2 separate regions of the Homo sapiens genome follow, and region 2 is linked to region 1. Evidence: fine-mapped expression QTL. Tissue or cell type: whole blood. Region 1 holds a variant in brackets; the other region holds the start of a gene. All regions are shown on one strand. Distances are between the middles of the regions.

Region 1 (2,681 bases):
CCAGGTGCAGTGGCTCATGCCTGTAATCCCAGCACTTTGAGAGGCTGAGGTGGGCAGATCACTTGAGGTCAGGAGTTCAAGACCATCCTGGCTAACATGGTGAAACCCTGTCTCTACTAAGAATACAAAAATTAGCTGGGTATGGTGGCAGATGCCTGTAATCCCAGCTATTTGGGAGGCTGAGGCAGGAGAATCGCTTGAACCCAAGAAGCAGAGGTTGCAGTAAGTCGAGATCATGTCACTGCACTCCAGCCTGGGCAACAGAGTGAGAGTAAGACTTCATCTCAAAAAAAAAAAAAAAAAAAAAAAAAATCAAAGGGTACAGCCAGGCTGAGCACAGTGGCTCATGCCTGTGATCCCAGCTCTTTGGGAAAATAAAACAAAAAAGAAATCTGCAGCTCCACCATCATTATCCCAGCAGCACACCAGTCTTCCCAGCAGACACTGTCTCAAAAAAAATGCAACTTTCTTAAGCAGTATCCAACTGTATGGCTGTACTATTTTTTTTTTTTTTTTTTTGAGACAGGGTCTCACTCCATTGCTCAGGCTGGAGGACAGTGGCCTGATCATGGGTCACTGCAACCTCAAACTCCTGGGCTCAAGGGATCTTCCTGCCTCAACTTCCCAAGTAGCTGGAACTACAGGTGCATGCCACCACACCCAGCTAATTTTAAAAATTTTTTTGTAGAGATGGGGTCTTGCAGTATTGCTCAGGTTGGCCTCAAACTCGAACTCAAGCCATCCTCCCACCTCTGCCTCTCAAAGTGCTTAGACTGTAGGTGTGAGCCACTGCACCTGGCTGACTATGGTCTCATTTTTACAAAAAACAAGTTGATATGGACATATTTGTCTAGGAAAATTCTAGAAGGTTTACGTATACCAAAATGCTAAGAGTAGTTTTCTCTGAGTGATAGATTTTCAGATAATTTATATTTACTTGTTTTCCTTTTATATGATGAAGACAGGGAAGAATCCACTCCCTTTTCAGGCTCACCTTGAAGTAACCTGTGGATTATGGTCCTAAAAGCCCAGCTGTATTTAAAATACAACTTTCTTGGCCAGGTGCAGTGGCTCACGCCTGTAATCCCAGCACTTTGGGAAGGCCCAGACAGGCAGATCACTTGAGGCCAGGAGTTCGAGACCAGCCTGGCCAACATAGCGAAACCCTGTCGCTACTAAAAATACAAAAATTAGCTGCGCGTGGTGACTCATGCCTGTAGTCCCAGCTACTCAGGAGAGAGGCATGAGAGTCGCTTGAACCTGGGAAGGGGAGGTTGCAGTGAGCCGAGGTTATGCCACTGCACTTCAGCATGGGCCACAGAGACTCTGTCTCAAAGAAAAAAACAAAAACAGAAGAAACAAC[T/A]TCCTTAAACTCTTTTCAGAGTAAGACAGTTGAACCTTTCTTGGATCACTAAAGAGCCTAGAAATTTGGTGGCGAGTGCTAACCTGGGGCCACTGAGCTTGGCAGGGACAGGTGGAAAAGTAGATAGCATTCACAGATGGGACCTGTGTATATGCTTTGGATTTTATTTAGCATATACCAGCAAGTATAGGGTTAGCAACATACCCTTTCGTAAACATATTTTTATACTTTCTTATGTGAGAAAAAATTTGCATTCCTTATGCAAGTCTTTCAGATAAACTTTACTGGTTAGTATTTTAAGAAATAATGTACTTTAAAGGCCGGGCGCAGTGGCTCACGCCTGTAATCCCAGCACTTTGGGAGGCCGAGGCGGGTGGATCACGAGGTCAGGAGATCGAGACCATCCTGGCTAACACGGTGAAACCCCGTCTCTACTAAAAATACAAAAAATTAGCCAGGCATGGTGGTGGGCTCCTGTAGTCCTAGCTACTCGGGAGGCTGAGGCAGGAGAATGGCGTGAACCCGGGAGGCAGAGCTTGCAGTGAGCCAAGATCGTGTCACTGCACTCTAGCCTGGGCGACAGAGCAAGACTCCGTCACAAAAAAAAAAAAAAAAGAAATATTGTATTTTAAGAAAGCTTTGGTTAGCCATTTAGGGATGAAACCTGACATGCAGTCCTTTGACGGTATTAATTCCTTGCTTGAGACCTATGCCTTTGAGGAGAGGAGGTCTCGCTGGCTGCCTCACGTGTGCCTGGCTCTGAGGGTGGAAAGGCCTGGACTGCTCTTTTGAAACTGGTTTGCCTGAGATGTGCCTGGGGCCGGCTACATCTGGTTCTGGTTTGAGGCAGGCTCCGCTACTTGTAGAAGTTTTGACATATTTGGAATTAGTATTATCAAACAGGTCCCTAGGTTATATAAATCCTAGGATTTAAAAAAGCAATTGAACCCATCGTTGGATTAAACCCACAGTTGATCAGCCATAGCACTGTTGACATTTTGGACTGGATAATTTGTTTCTGTAAGGAGCTGTCCCATGCATTGTTTAGCAGCACCCTGGCTTCTACCCACTGGATGCCAGTAGCACTTCCCCACCCAGCTATGGCAACTAAAGATGTCTCCAGACATTGCCAAATGTCCCACTGGGGGGCAAAATTGCCCCCCACTTGAAAACCACTGGATTAGATCTTCATTTGGGGCCTAAAGATTTGTCAGCCTTTTCTCCAGGCTGGGAGCTCTCTGGGGAATGTTTCTCTTAACTTTTATACTGTCTGTATCCTCTCTGAAATTGTTCCACATGTGTTCTGCCTCTTGTGTTG
Region 2 (2,681 bases), 220 kb before region 1:
ATGATGTAACACTCTTTTTTTTGAGACTGAGTCTCGCTCTGTTGCCCTGGCTGGAGTGCAGTGGCTCCATCTCGGCTCACTGCAACTTCTGCCTCCTGGGTTCAACCGATTCTTGTGCCCCAGCCTTCTGAGTAACTGGGATTACAGGCGCACACCACCACGCTTGGCTAATTTTTAGTACAGACGGGGTTTCACCATGTTGGCCAGGCTGGTCTCGAACTCCTGACCTCAAGTGATCCGCCCGCCTCGGCCTCCCAAAGCACTGGGATTACAGGCGTGAGCCACTGCCTCCGGCCAAAGTAACACTTTTGCACAGGGAGTTGGACTTGAGTGACAAATGGGTGACAAAGTGCTTTGTTAACTCGCAGATGTGAAGGGGACACTGCGGCTGACCGCCTGGTGACAGCTAGCCAGTGGTTGAGAGACCGCAAGATGGTTCCTCGTCTTTCACTTCCCTCCGTCCCAGGTCTGAACTCGGACCAGCTGGAGCCTTTGGGGGACCACGGATTCCCCTTTACACTCACACAGATTTCTCTTGTCCGTCACTCACTCACAGTCCAGTAAGGATCCTGCTGTCTATTCCGCGAAGACATCTTGAATGCAGGGACAGCCATTTGGAAGACTGTCCTCGAGGGTGGCAGCAGCCTCTCAGGACGGGGAAAGCCAAGGTGCCCACTAAGCCCGTCTGGGGTGGAGGGTGGCAGGCCGGGGTGGAGAGGATTGGAGGCCGCCTGAAGGAACCTGTGCTCGGTGGCATTTACTCAATGTGGGGGTCTGACACCTCCCAGCTCATTTTGTCCCCATCTTCCCCTTGCGTCAGGTCCCCACCCAGCAGGAGGAGGTCCGAGGATCTGCGCGACGCTGGCCCCGCGGAGTGTGGGGGACTTTTCCTCTCAACCACCAGTGCCCCGCAAGCGTGGGTGAACAGTCCTCCCTGGCTACTGTGGGACGCTGGGCAGGCGACTTCGCCTCTCTAGGCCTCGGTTTTCCTGCTTGTCAAATGGGGCTGATGCCGGCGTGGGCTTCTTCAGGCGGTCGCGAGCGTTGACCCCTGGAGTCAGCGAACCAGCCGCGCACGCACTCCCGGGCGGAGGTCGGGGCTGGGGGGCGACGCCTCCCGTCTGCGCGCCCCCGGCCCCGCCTCCCGCCGGCGCACCCCTCCCTCGGCTCCGCCCGCGGCCCGCTTCTTCCTCCCGCGGGCGGCCCAGCCCTAGCGCCCCGCGCTCCGCGGGCAGCCCCCTGCCGCCGCGCCATGTCCGCCGGCTGGTTCCGGCGCCGCTTCCTGCCTGGGGAGCCGCTCCCCGCGCCGCGGCCGCCTGGGCCGCATGCCAGCCCCGTGCCCTACCGACGGCCCCGCTTCCTTCGCGGCTCCAGCTCCAGCCCCGGGGCGGCCGACGCCTCGCGCCGCCCAGACTCCCGGCCCGTGCGCAGCCCCGCACGAGGACGCACGCTACCCTGGAATGCAGGCTACGCCGAGTGAGTGCCCCTCCCCGACCCCCAGCTCAGGCCCGGGCCTGAACCCGCTTCGGGTCCTGCGCCCGCCTAGAAAGCGGGAGGAGCTGAGTGACAGTCCCCACCCACCTGTGGACAGCCCCTTCTTGCCCTCACCTCCGAATCCTGACAACTTCCCGGTCATCCCGACCCAGCGTTTTCCTTGGGATTCCGACCTCCCCCTCAGAGAAGACAGGAGGTCGGGAAGGACCTGCAGCCCAGGGGCTTCCAAGATGAGGCCCAGAGACTCGGTAGAGTTCCAGCATTCGGGGCTTTGGAGATTTCCCCTCGCCCTCTACCCCCACCATCTCACCCTGGGTATGACCTGCGCTGTATGGGACAGGGCTTTGGGCTGCGACAGGACAGGGGCAGGAATGGCAACCTACCCTTACCGTCTAGCCCTGGGTCACCAGGTAGGCTCCAGAGGAGCTGGGCCCTGACTTTTACCTTAGCCATGAGGCCAGTGAAGTTAGGAAGCTTACATCGTGGTTGTCTAAGTGTGTGTTAGGGACAGCACTGGGGAGCTGTTGCCCCAGAGGGAGGGGTCTTCTCCCTGTGCTGGCTTGGGTCCCTGTGCCCATGGGGACATAGGTGTGTCCCTGGAGGGTCGCTTACCATTTCCCGGCCTCAGGATTATCAATGCAGAGAAATCTGAATTCAATGAGGATCAAGCCGCCTGTGGGAAGCTGTGCATCCGGAGATGTGAGTTTGGGGCTGAAGAAGAGTGGCTGACCCTGTGCCCAGAGGAGGTGAGTGCAGTCTGAGTTCTTGGCTGGAATCCCTCCGACAGGCTGGGGCCACGACCTGCAGGCTGAGGTTCTTACCCTGCTGCCCCAGGTCCTAGTTAGGTTGCGTCAGGGGACAAGTGGGGAAGTCAGGCAGAGGCTGACACTGAGCCCTTCCTGTGCAGTTCCTGACAGGCCATTACTGGGCACTGTTCGATGGGCACGGCGGTCCTGCAGCAGCCATCTTGGCTGCCAACACCCTGCACTCCTGCTTGCGCCGGCAGCTGGAGGCCGTGGTGGAAGGCTTGGTGGCCACTCAGCCCCCCATGCACCTCAATGGCCGCTGCATCTGCCCCAGTGACCCTCAGTTTGTGGAGGAAAAGGGCATCAGGGCAGAAGACTTGGTGATCGGGGCATTGGAGAGTGCCTTTCAGGAATGTGTGAGTGTGTGGCTTTTGGCTGGGG

What was found. PIP is the estimated chance that this variant, and not a neighbour inherited with it, causes the effect.
Region 2: it holds the start of PPM1M, and the variant in region 1 is fine-mapped to the expression of PPM1M in whole blood (INTERVAL, PIP 0.92).

Annotation. Positions count from the first base shown.
Region 1 is chr3:52,459,901-52,462,581 of GRCh38, forward strand. All of the region lies in intron 3 of NISCH (nischarin), which reads left to right. Among named protein-coding and RNA genes, the nearest start is that of NISCH, 5.6 kb to the left of the region's middle. The variant T/A (reference allele first, on the strand shown) is at 1,364.
Region 2 is chr3:52,244,573-52,247,253 of GRCh38, forward strand. It overlaps PPM1M (protein phosphatase, Mg2+/Mn2+ dependent 1M), which reads left to right and starts at 1,187. Exons shown (of 10, transcript NM_144641.4): 1 at 1,187-1,476; 2 at 2,123-2,240; 3 at 2,402-2,656. The coding sequence starts at 1,253. RefSeq lists silencers at 1,061-1,430, 1,471-1,530.